2 linked regions of the Homo sapiens genome follow. The protein of the gene in region 2 purifies or fractionates together with the protein of the main gene of each other region. This does not show direct contact. Each region holds a gene or a part of one and is shown on either strand. Other genes may lie near its edges.

The links. Proteins that work in one complex are often made in the same cells at the same time.
Region 1: the proteins of ERCC5 (region 2) and MNAT1 purify together in Homo sapiens (co-immunoprecipitation; 2 studies listed by BioGRID and IntAct, with this or other methods). This does not show direct contact.

The regions. Positions count from the first base shown.
Region 1 is NC_000014.9:60,737,740-60,744,770, reverse strand, and holds part of MNAT1 (CDK-activating kinase assembly factor MAT1), read right to left. Parts: intron 1-7,031.
Region 2 is NC_000013.11:102,870,024-102,876,518, forward strand, and holds the end of ERCC5 (DNA excision repair protein ERCC-5), read left to right. Parts: intron 1-2,174; coding exon 2,175-2,375; intron 2,376-3,235; coding exon 3,236-3,320; intron 3,321-5,283; coding exon 5,284-5,880; 3' UTR 5,881-5,972; downstream 5,973-6,495. Other genes in the region: BIVM-ERCC5 protein, read left to right, coding at 2,175-2,375, 3,236-3,320, 5,284-5,880. UniProt on the Homo sapiens protein: Single-stranded structure-specific DNA endonuclease involved in DNA excision repair. Makes the 3'incision in DNA nucleotide excision repair (NER).

The DNA.
Region 1 (7,031 bases), on a different chromosome or scaffold from region 2:
TAGGTGCACCCTAACAAAGACTAAAATCAAGCCCCAACAAGTTTTTGAAGGGATTAAAAATGTGAGGTTGAGTTACACTAAAGTAAGGAAACAATGGGTTCTCCACATATCATTCTAGCAAAGAGTAAAACCAAGCCTACACAAGTTCAAAGTTATCTGCCAGTAACTGAACTACCTGCAAGAATTTTTAAAATCAACACTTTTCACAAAAATACAAAATCCAGAATCTCTATAATATACCACCTACAATTAAAAAGTAGTAAACATGCAAAAATAAATAAGCAGAAAACTGTAACCTACAGTCAAATAAAAGCAGTCAATAGAAACCAACCCTGAGATGGCTGGGCGTGATGGCTCACACCTGTAATCCCCGCACTTTGGGAGGCCGAGGCACGCAGATCACTTGAGGTCAAGAGCTTGGGACCAGCCTGGCCAACAGGGCAAAACCCCATCTCTACTAAAAATACAAAAATTAGCCAGGCATGGTAGCAGGCACCTGTAATCCCAGCTACTTGGGAGGCTGATGCAGGAGAATCACTTGAACCTAAGAGGTGGAGGTTGCAGTGAGCCAAGATCATGCCACTGCACTCCAGCATGGGCAACAGAGTGAGGCTCTCTCAAAAACACAAACAAAAAAGAAACCAACCCTGAGATAGCCAAGGAGTTAACTCTTACAGACAGAAACCTTAAGATTGACTATCATAAATATTTTAAAGGAATTAATGGAAAATATGTTCAAAAAATTAAAGGAAAATGCATTCAAAGAACTAAAGAAAAATATATTCTTGATGAGTATATAGATGGGAAATATCAGAGAAATGAAAACTATAAAAAAGATAAAAATGAAAACTCTACGACCAAAACAATACAATAAGAAATGAAAAATCTATTGGATGAGATTAGAAATGGCAGACAGGCAACAGTGAACCTGAAGATAGATCAATAGAAAATATATAATCTAAAGAACAGGGAGAAAGAGATATGAGTAAAATTAACTTCTCAACAGAAACACTAGAGAACAATGAAATGATATCTTTTGTATGGTCAAAGAAATGCCAACCCATAATTCTATATTCAGCAAAAATATCCTTCAAACACTAGGGTGAAATAAAAACACTTTCTTATAAACAAAATCAGAGTATATTCTTCACCAACACACCTACACTATAAGAAATGCTAAGGAGCTGGGCGCAGTGGCTCACGCCTGTAATCTCAGCACTTTGAGAGGCTGAGGCAGGCGAATCACCTGAGGTCAGGAGTTCAAGGCCAGCCTGGCCAACATGGTGAAACTCCATCTCTACTGAAAATACAAAAATTAGCCGGGCATGGTGGCACACACCTGTAATCCCAGTTACTCAAGAGGCTGAGGCAGGAGAATCGCTTGAACCTGGGAGGCGGAGGCTGCAGTGAGCCGAGATTGTGCCATTGTACTCCAGCCTGGGCGACAGAGCAAGACTCCGTCTCAAAAAAAAAAAGAAATGCTAAAGAATGTTCTTTAGGCAGATGGAAATCAATATGACTATAAAATCAGATCCAAAGGAAGAAGGGCAATATCAAAGATAGTAAATAGGTGAAAATAAGAGACTATATTTCACCACTTCATACCCACTAGAATGGCTATAATCAAAAGACAACTATAACAAGCATTGGCAACTACATAGAGAGACTAGAGCCCTCATTCACTGCTATAAGATGGTACAGCCACATTGGAAAACAAACTAAACAAAGAGTTACCATATGATCCAATAATTCTACTCCTAAATATATACATGAGAGAAACAAAAACATTTGTCCATACGAAAACTTGTACATGAATGTTCACAGCAGCATTATTCATAACAGCCAAAAAGTAGAAATGACTCAAATGTTCTTCAACTGATGAATGGATAAAATGTAGTATAGCCATACAATGGAATAATATTCAGCAATAAAAAGAAATGTTGTACTCATACATGCTACAACATGGATGAACCTAGAAAATATTACACTATGTAAAAGAAGCCAGTCCAGAGAACCACATACTGTATGATTCCATTTATATGAAAGGTCCAGAATAGGAAAATCTACATAGTCAGAAAGTAGATAACTGGTTGCCTAGTGCTATGGGAGGGGGGAGTTGAGGAGTGTGACGGCTAAGTGGTGAGAGGTATCTTTGTGGGGTAATATGTACATCTCTGAGAATATACTAAAAGCCATTGAAACGTACACTTTAAATGTGTGAATTTTATGGTACGTGAATTATATTCAGTGAAGTAGTTTTTTAAAAACATACCTTTCCTTAAAGACAACTGACTGTTTAAAGCAAAAATAACAACAAATCACAAATACAAATAAAAGATATGCTGAAAGAAACCACTAATAATAATAATAACAATGAGGAGTTAATTGTTGGCCATAAAAGGTGACTGTAATCCCAGAACTTTGGGAGGCTGAGGTGGGTAGATCACTTGAGGCCAGGAGTTTGAGACCAGCCTGGGCAACACAGTCAGAGACTAGCTCTACAAAAAAAAATTAAAAATTAGCTGGCTGTGGCAGTGCACACCTGTAGTCCCAAATTCTGGGGTGGCTGAAGTGGAAGGATCCCTTGAACCCCTGAGTTCAAGGTTGCAGTGACCTGTGATAAAGCCACCACACTCCAGCCTGGGTGATAGAGTGAGATCCTGTCTCTTATTTAAAAAAAAATAAAAATAAATAAAAAATAAAAAGCTACCGGCTAATAGGCCAATACTTTAAAAAATCCAATTATTTCAAAATAAGGCAGGAAAGGAGCAAAAGAACAACAAAAAAACCAAAGGAATACAAGGAAACATGTAGACTTAAACCCAATGATATCAATAATTAGATATAATGGACTAGTACACCAATTAAAAGGCAGAGATTGTCAATCCAGATAAAATGGCAAGACCCAGTGAAGTAGAGTCTCCCAGAGACAGACACAAATTGGTTGAAAGTAAATGGATGGGGGCCAGGTACAGCAGCTCACTCTTGTAATACCTACATTTTGGGAGGCCCAGGCAGGAGGATCACTTGCGCTCAGGCGTTTGAGACCAGCTTGGGAAACATAGCAAGACCCCATCTCTACTAAAAATTAAAAAAAAAAAAAAAAAAAAAACCCCAGGCGCAGTGGCTCACGCCTGTAATCCCAGCACTTTGGGAGGCCGAGGCAGGAGGATCACGAGGTCAGGAGATCGAGACCATCCTGGCTAACACAGTGAAACCCTGTCTCTATTAAAAATACAAAAAATTAGCCAGACGTGGTGGCCCGTGCCTGTAATCCCAGCTACTCGGAAGGCTGAGGCAGGAGAATGGTGTGAACCTGGGAGGCGGAGCTTGCCGTGAGCTGAGATCGCGCCACTGCACTCCAGCCTGGGCAACAGAGCGAGATTCCATCTCAAAAAATAAAAATAATAAATACATAAATAAATAAATAAGCCAGGTGTGGTGCCATGCACCTGTAGTCCTAGCTACTCAAGAGGATGAGGCAGGAGGATCATTTGAGCCCAGGAGTTTATGATTGTGCCACTGATATTACATGGGTTAAAAAATTTTTTTAAAGTAAATGAACGGAAAAATGCACACTATCAAATAGTAAGCACAAGAAATCTGACAGTGCCAAATTATTATCAGACAGAATCTTCAGGAAAAAGCATATTACAAGAGACAAAGAGGGCCATTTCATAATGATAAAAGGAGAAATGTATTAGGAAGGCATAACAATCCCAAATATGTACCCAACAAGAGAGTTCCAAAATGCATAAAGTATGACAAAACTTACAAGAAAAACTGACAAATCTATAATCATAGTGGAGTAATTCATAAGATGAGTAGATAAAATAAATTAATAAAGATACAGAAGATCTGGTAATGCTATCAACCAAGATGGGTATGGTAATATGTACCACGTTTATAACTTATACTACACTACACCCAACAACCACAGAATGTATATTCTTTTCAAATGTACACTGATTGTTCACAAAGACAGGCCATATGCTGGACCATAAGCAAGCTTTCAGAAAACTTCAAAAGACTGAAATTTTATAGAGTATATCCTCTTATCACAACAGAAAATTATAAAATAATATATCTAGAATGTTCCTGTTCTAAATCTTCCACCTAAAATAAGTGCCTTTTCCTAATTTTCTACCCAGAGGGGGCTCTGTTTCCCAATTTGCACAAAGGTACTGAATAAGATCAGTATATTAAATGAGTTAACACCACTTATTATTCTTATCAACAAATAAATTCAAACTTAATCTGATAAAACTTTTAAACATAACTAACAATTTAGAGGAAATACTGAGAACAGAAGAACATATTTAACAATATCACAGAGATGCAATAAGCAAAATTCGGACTCTTCAGGATAAACTATCCAGTAACATCAGTAAATGAGAGAGAAATAGGAGAACAGAAAAAAAAGGGAAAAAAAGAAAGAGAAAGATGTTAAGTAACTATCACAAAACATTGCCTTTATATATCAAGATGGTAGGTACTTGATTTTGCTTATCTTGTACTTTGCGTCTCGTGCGTGATGAAAAAAGTAGATTTAGCACATAAAATTTCCAGAGACAGGTTTTGCCAAGAATGGTTGGGATAGAAATTAATTTTTTTTTAAGATGGAGTCTTGCTCTGTAGCCTAGGCTGGAGTGCAGTGGTGTGATCTCGGCTCACTGCAACCTCTGCCTCCCAGGTTCAAGTGATTCTCCTGCCTTAGCCTCCCCAAGTACCTGGGATTACATGCCCATGCCACCACACCCAGCTAATTATTGTATTTTTAGTAGAGACGGGGTTTCACTATGTTGGCCAGGATGGTCTCGAACTCCTGACCTCAGGTGATCCACCCGCCTCAGCCTCCCAAAGTGCTGGGATTACAGGCGTAAGCCACTGCACCCAGACAGAAATTAAATTATTAAAGGCTGTAGTTAAATGAGAATTAGATACCACTGCCTCCATCTAATTCTATATGCCTTCAGAATGGAAGGCCCATTTCTTGAAATAGGTGGCCTGATAAAGAAAAAAAATTACCATTTTCTGTAATTGAGACAATGTTCATCCTTGAACAGAAAAAATTAAAAAAAGAACATGAAATCCAATCTTCTTCTATATGCATACAATCAATTCATTTGTGCATTTGCTAGATTAAATTGATAAGTAGGGAAATATGCTTCTTCAATTGCTAGCAGCTAAGAGACAAAGGTATTTAATAATGTTTCACCTCTTTTCTCTCCTCTCTGCTCCTGTATTTTCTCCCATAAGTAAAACTCCTAGTTAATTTTTCCATAACCCTATAGTTCCTCTTTTATGAAGCACTACTCCTACTCACTTTATCACTTGCCTCCAAAAAGTCTTTGCTACTTGAGGACATGAAAAAAAAAAAAATAAGTTAATAAAATCCTGCGGAAGCCAGCCTTCAAGATAGCCCAATGATATTCACACTCTTGGTATTCACACTCTTGTGTGTACTCTCCCACATTATAACACTACAAAACACCAGAGGTGATGGTATATCACTTCTATCATTAGGTTTTAAAAGGCTCTACAGCTTCCAGTTCCCTTCCTCCCTCCCTTTCTCTCTTCTCCCATCCATCTCTCCAATCTTCCTTACCTCCGCTCATATCACTAGTTCTGGGAGAAGCCACGTCATAAGTAGCCCTATGGAAGAGTCCATGGGGAGGAACTGAAGCCTCCTGACAAGAGCCACATGAGTGACCTTGGAAACAGATACTCCAGGCCCAGTCAAATCTAGACTGCAGTCCTAGCCAACAACTTGATTACAACATCCTAAGACCGAGCCAGAATCATTCAGCAAAATAATACCTGCTCTTCTCAGACTAACAAGCATATTATAAAAATGCCTATATTCAATCCCATGAAATATATGCCATAAAAACTCAACAAACTATCAAAAAATTTTTCATTAAGAGCCAAAATGAGGCTGGACACGGTGGCTCACGCCTGTAATCTCAGCACTTTGGGATGCCAAAGCGGGTGGATCACCTGAGGTCGGGAGTTCAAGACCAGCCTGACCAACATGGAGAAACCCCATCTCTACTAAAACTACAAAATTAGCCAGAGGTAGTGGCGCATGTCTGTAATCCCAGCTACTCGGAAGGCTGAGACAGGAGAACTGCTTGAACCCGGGAGGCAGAGGTTGTGGTGAGCTATCACGCCATTGCACTCCAGCCTGGGCAACAAGAGCAAAACTCCATCTCAGGCCGGGCGCAGTGGCTCACACCTGTAATCCCAGCACTTTGGGAGGATCGAGGCGGCTGGATCACGAAGTCAGTAGTTCGAGACCAGCCTGGCCAACATAGTGAAACCCCGTCTCTACTAAAAATACAAAAATTAGCCGGGCATGGTGGCATGCGACTGTAGTCCCAGCTACTCGGGAGTCTGAGGCAGGAGAATCACTTGAACCTGGGAGGTGGAGGTTGCAGTGAGCCTAGATCATGCCACGGCACTCCAGCTTGTGTGACAGAGCAAAACTTCGTCTCAAAAAAAAAAAAAAAAAAAATCCAAGATGTTTTTCTTATCAGAAAAGCATCTGATAAGATGCTTTTAAACATCTTTTAAAATGCAAGATTTTAAAAAATAATATTAGCCAATATAGGCAAAGTTGTGTGGCAATAGGAATCTCCATACAGTTGTTGGTAACATAATTGACAAGATCTTTTTTTTTTTTTTTTTGTAAGATAGGGTTTCCCTCCTGGCTAACACGCTGAAACCCCGTCTCTACTAAAAATACAAAAAAATTAGCCGGGCGTGGTAGCGGGCGCCTGTAGTCCCAGCTACTCGGGAGGCTGAGGCAGGACAATGGCGTGAACCCGGGAGGCGGAGCTTGCAGTGAGCCGAGATTGCGCCACTGCACTCTAGCCTGGGCGACAGAGCGAGACTCCTTCTCAAAAAAAAAAAAAAAGGATAGGGTTTCCCTATGTTGTCCAAGTTGGTCTCGAACCCTCCCTCCTCAGCCTCCCAAGTAGCTAGGATTACAGGTAGGAACAACCATGCCTGTCTTGACATAATCTTTT
Region 2 (6,495 bases):
TTAGGATGAATACAGAGTAAAGAGCAGGAAGGATGGTGGGAAACCAGTAAAATCAGAATGTGGCCTCACTTTGTTTTCTGTTCTCCTCTTCTGAGGGCACCCTGGCTGGTGAATCATTCTTAGAGTGGGGCTGCATTGGGCCTGCAGGTTGAATTGAGCTGTAGTCACATTTGGTTTGGACTACACGGTGTATTCTTCTCTTGAGCTTTAATTTTCAATTGGCTACCAACATTTACCTTTGGGAGATTTTACACAAAATTATGGATTCTGTTGGGGGAAAAAGGAGAGCTGAAAATACTGGGCCTGAATTTCTGGATAGCCCCAAAATAGCTGGCATGGAGCAACAGCAGTTCCCCTCCCCTACCCCAAGGCCTTGGACTGGGCATGAATCCTTCAGTTTCATCACAGTTGCCTCCACTCCCCCAGCTCAGCTGATTGACAGACACCTTCCTCCTTTCATCTTTATGTGAAGTGCCAGGCCCTCCTGCTTGAAGGAGTAACCATAGCTTTGGCTTGATGAGCTCACAAGTGCACTGATTCTAACTGCCAGTCATGATTACAGTTTCAAAAACGAAAATCTGCAAGTAAAGTAGAGGAGAATTATCGGTATTCTCTCAGTGCACTCCTGGAAAGAATGTTGTAAAAGTAATGAAGAAAAATTATTTTTTCCTTTTTGCATTTTGTTGTTATAATACTTTGAAGACCGCAATTAGTAATTTCCAACGCTAGATGGCACTCCTGCATCGGTGAGGCGGACCCTGGCCCTGACAGCCGGTCTGAGTGGGTTCCTAATGCTGCACTAGCAAGCTTGTGAAGCGGGGGAGCCTGAGCTGCGGGCGTTTTTTCAGGTTCCATTGAGTACATAGATTGGTGAGGATTATGTTAGTAACTTTGATGGCATTTATTTTTTCCTAATTGTGTAAATGTTTCTGGTCAGTCGTCACTGCATTACAAACTACCTTCAGCCTTAGTGGCTTCACACAGCAGTAGTCACTGATTTTGCTCATGCCTCTGAAGCTCGCTCAGGCCTGGTGGGGGTGTCTTGTCTCTGTTCCATGTCGGCTAGGACAGCTCAGCTGGGCTAGGACCCCTTAAGATGGCTCGCGGGGCTGATGAGGTGGCTTCGGCCTCGGGGCCTGGGTGGACACTTGGTGAGCTTGGCTTCCTCATAGCATGTTGGAGCCAAGAGCAGGAGGTCCAGGGGACAGGAAGTGGCGAGGGCCTCCCCTAGGCCTGGCACGGCTTGAGTCACACTGGTCAGCCATGGCCGCCCTGCTCAAGAGGAGGCCACAGGGACCCCCTTCGTGATGGGAGGAGGGTCCAAGAGTGTGTCGCTGTCTTTATCCGGCCGATTTAGGCTTAGAATGGAAAACATTGAAAAATGAATAAAATATAAAGAAGAAAATGAATGGCTGTGTGCTCACGTAGAATATTGCCTAGCACACAGCGAAATAATAGTTGTTAGTGTTATTTATTTTAAGTATCTGTTTACTTTTCTCATATATGTGTTTTTTCCAAAACTGGAATCATACTTTAAGTAGAGTTCTATTATCTCTGTTTTTGTATATATTTATTTGTTTTACATACATATGTATTTATATATATATAAAATGTTAAATTTTAAAAACAGATACATGTATCTGTTTTTACAGATTTTTTAAACAAATTTAACATTTTCTTGGCATATTTACATTTTATTAAATATTCTTCGATCCATTATTGTATTTGATTTGAGGTAAATAATACAGATACATTACTTCCATTTTACTGCTGAGAAAGAGACCCAGAGAAGTTGTAACTTCTGTGGTATAATTATGAGTGTGGGCTCTAGAGGAAGACTGTACCAATTCCAGCTGTGAAATCTTGAGCCAGTTACTTATTTTTGAGTTCAGTTCCCTCCTCTGTGAGGTGAGGGTAACGATAGGGCATGGCTTGTGTGATGATTGGGCATGTGAAATATTTAACACAGTGCCAAGCACAGAGGAAGACTTCCATAAATGTTTGCCATCATTATACATTGTGGCTAATAGTACTAAAATTAATAAAATATTCTATATAGCATACAATTTGAGTTAGAACTTGAGTTTACATGTTCTAAGTTTAGTTCTTCATCCATAGTGTATGAACTATAATGTCTCATTGCTGTGTAAGTAATTGTTTCCTTTATTTTACAGAGAATGGTGGCATGAAGCTCAAAAAAATCCAAAGATAAGACCTAATCCTCATGACACCAAAGTGAAAAAAAAATTACGGACATTGCAACTCACCCCTGGCTTTCCTAACCCAGCTGTTGCCGAGGCCTACCTCAAACCCGTGGTGGATGACTCGAAGGGATCCTTTCTGTGGGGGAAACCTGATCTCGACAAAATTAGAGAATATCCTTTGCTTCTTAAAAGAGAAGGAAACACCTTGTCAAATATGTGTTTGGTTTAAAACTTATGGAAGAGAAACTTGGATCATTTTTTTCTTATATCCCGTTAATCCCATTTTCTTAATATCCCGCTCTCCTTTTCACTCTTTCTTCCCTCTCCTCAGTTGTTGTTTTTTGTTTGTTTGTTTGTTTTAAAGGAACAGTGTATCACTCTGTCACCCAGCCTGGAGTGCAGTGGTGCAATCATAGCTCACTGCAGCCACCACTTCCTGGGCTCAAGGAATCCTCCTGCCTCAGCCTCCTAAGTAGCACAAGCCACTGCATCTGGCCCCTCTCCTTAGTTTTAAAGAGGGTCTTTGTTTGAATAAGCAGTGATAAGCATTCATAGATATAACCACATACTTAAATATTATTGATTCTGAAAGAAGGAAAGATGACTAATCTTGTCCTTTTTATTACTGGTTGTCCTTTCCGTGTATATTTAAGTAATCATTTGGATAGATGTTTCAAAACTTGCACTAGAATTAATCCAACTACGTTTGATTTTTTCTCTTAATGAAATAGGCAAGATATCTGAAACTTGTTTTTATTCCAGTTAACCTTTTTTCATAGTCACAAGTCTTTGATGTCCTAAAGTGAGAGCTAAATATGTTTTATTTTATAGAATTGAAAAGAACATAGTGCCAGATGATTATGCTGGAGTCATTTATTTTGTTAGTACTTTCTTTTAGCACTCTAATCTTTATAAATAGGAAAATCTTAGGAGATACAGGGAATGGAATCAAGAATGGGTTCTTTGGACCTTTTTATTTGTCACTTGTTTAAATATCTTTCAAAATATTTATAAGTCTTAACTGCATGCATATTTTGTCAGCGGTATTTCGGCTGGAACAGAACGAAGACAGATGAATCTCTGTTTCCTGTATTAAAGCAACTCGATGCCCAGCAGGTAATCATGGTGGACCCTTCTCCTAAGTTCAGGATGAAGGGTAGGCTGTGGTTGACAGCTGTTAAAGACCAGTTAACTCTTATTTTGGGGCATAGAGCAGACATTTTGAAATTAGGATAATTTAGATGAGAGAATAGAAGAAAATAGAAAAAGAAAAGTTAGACTTTGGCTTCATTTTCTATGATCACTCTTAGGGCTGAACTTTGGAGTCCTTTCATATTCATTTTTTTCTTTGAAAAAACCAGTCTAATAACTGATTTCACACTAAGGTGTTTCTGATTAAATACATTACCCCTTGGGATTTACTTTCATTTTTTAACGAAAGGAAGTCTTCAAAGCAATTCTGATCATTTAAGTTTTTATAAGTACTAATATTTTTAAATTCTATAAACGAATCTTGAAAGGTAGAAGTTCAGTCATTATTGTGTATCAGTAGGAGAGGTTTTTGTGGGAAGGAGCCCTTTTGTATGACCTTTAGTTCCTCTAGGTACCTACTTCTTGCTTTATCTGTGAGTATGTTCTGACTCACACAAAACAAGCTTTCGCCCACACTAGAAACAACCCACAAAACATACATACAAATAAACCACTTAGCAGAAATGAGAATGTAGCTTTTGTGATAATATATTTAAATTAAACCCATTTTCATTAGGCTTGGATAATTTTGAAAAACATGAACAAAACTAAGACAGCATTTCTATGAGTTTCTCTTTGTTTTTTGGATGACTATCTACTGGAAACATTATAAACCAACCAAAAAGGAAAGCTATTTGTCTTAGTGTCTGGTGATTTCTTAATTTCAGATAAATTTTGTTGTAATATTTATCTCCTTTTTCATTCTAAAACTTAATGTGTTTATTTTTCCAAAATTAGAAAATGAAGAAAATGAATTAAAACTACTCATTAGTTACCTCCTCTAATACAGTTGTTAACATTTAGGTTAAAAAATTTTCCTGCATTTATTTGTGGCCATACTAAATGTAACTTAATAGATCTAATCCTCCCCCCCAACTTATTAGCATATTTTCTTCTATGTATTGTGTGGTTTTCTTAATTCCAGATGACTAGATTATATTTCATGAAAGATATTTAAATAATTAGTTCAGTTTACTTGTTAGACCTTTAATTTTCAAGTTTGTTATAGTAATGCTGTGATGAACATTAGGCATATAGCTTTACCCATATATTTTTTTTTTGAGACGGAGTCTCACTCTGTCTCCCAGGCTGGAGTGCAGTGGTGAGAACTCGGCTCACTGCAAGCTCCGCCTCCCGGGTTCACGCCATTCTCCTGCCTCAGCCTCCCGAGTAGCTGGGACTACAGGCGCCCGCCACCACGCCTGGCTAATGTTTTGTATTTTTTTAGTAGAGACGGGGTTTCACCGTGTAAGCCAGAATGGTCTCGATCTGACCTCGTGATCCACCCACCTCGGCCTCCCAGAGTGCTGGGGTTACAGGCGTGAGCCACCATGCCCGGCCAAAGAATATCTTCTTAAAAGTGAATTTACTGAATAAAAGGCATGAATATTTCTTACAGTTGCTAATATATACTGTGAACTTGCCTCTCAAAGGTATTGTATGATGATAATGTTTTTAAAAGAAAGATATAGTAGGACTTAGAAACAGGCCCCATGAAGTCGTGTTGCTCCTGAGGAAGATGAAATGTTTAGCTACAGAAAAATATTTAACGCTCTTTGAATATCTTAGGAAGAGATTTCTCATTTGAGATGTGGACTAAAGACTTAGTTGACAGAGATGGTACAAGTACTGCTTTAGGTATGATTTAGAAAGTGAAAATTACTGTCAGTAATTCACTGGGAGAGAACTGGGTTTTGGGAGATAATGAATTAATATTCTCTGACATAGTAATCCAATGTGAGTGATCAAGGTTGAGCTTGTTGATTTGGTTTAGAAACTTGACTTACTTGTCTGATTTATTATTATTATTCTTTTGTTATTTTTTTAGACACAGCTCCGAATTGATTCCTTCTTTAGATTAGCACAACAGGAGAAAGAAGATGCTAAACGTATTAAGAGCCAGAGACTAAACAGAGCTGTGACATGTATGCTAAGGAAAGAGAAAGAAGCAGCAGCCAGCGAAATAGAAGCAGTTTCTGTTGCCATGGAGAAAGAATTTGAGCTACTTGATAAGGCAAAAGGAAAAACCCAGAAGAGAGGCATAACAAATACCTTAGAAGAGTCATCAAGCCTGAAAAGAAAGAGGCTTTCAGATTCTAAAGGAAAGAATACATGCGGTGGATTTTTGGGGGAGACCTGCCTCTCAGAATCATCTGATGGATCTTCAAGTGAAGATGCTGAAAGTTCATCTTTAATGAATGTACAAAGGAGAACAGCTGCGAAAGAGCCAAAAACCAGTGCTTCAGATTCGCAGAACTCAGTGAAGGAAGCTCCCGTGAAGAATGGAGGTGCGACCACCAGCAGCTCTAGTGATAGTGATGACGATGGAGGGAAAGAGAAGATGGTCCTCGTGACCGCCAGATCTGTGTTTGGGAAGAAAAGAAGGAAACTAAGACGTGCGAGGGGAAGAAAAAGGAAAACCTAATTAAAAAATATGTATCCTCTATAATTAGTTATGACAGCCATTTGTAATGAATTTGTCGCAAAGACGTAATAAAATTAACTGGTGGCACGGTCTTTGTATTTAGTGTGTGGTTCCTAAAAACAAATGCTAAATCTGACATTTGTTTTTTAATGTTTTACTTTTCTAGTATTTTTTAGCTGAATATTTCAAGTATCATTGGATATTATCTTGTATTCACAGGCTTTGTCTTTTCATGTTTTCATTATCTTAACAATGTCTGATCCTTCCTGGTCACATGTTAAAAAAGCGAAAAAGATTTCTATTGATCAGCACTCACTCTCAATAGGCTTTCCCTCTGACATTCAGACGTAGCTGAGAAGAAATACGTGCATGTTTCTAATTCCACAATAGTGGCAGTTTTACACAACTGTTTAGCCCTGCTGCCCACGGCTTTGCATTTTCCCTCAGGTTCCACTTAAAAGCATAGCAGGAGGGAGCCTCACTGCTGGAACATATTTCAATATGTTTGCTGTGGTTTTAGCAAACAATTAGGAAACCTAAATGGGGTGCATCATTCTACCTGTGAACATTAAGTGTATGGGAACCTCTGTACCGTTATGTTTGGCTTTTAAACCA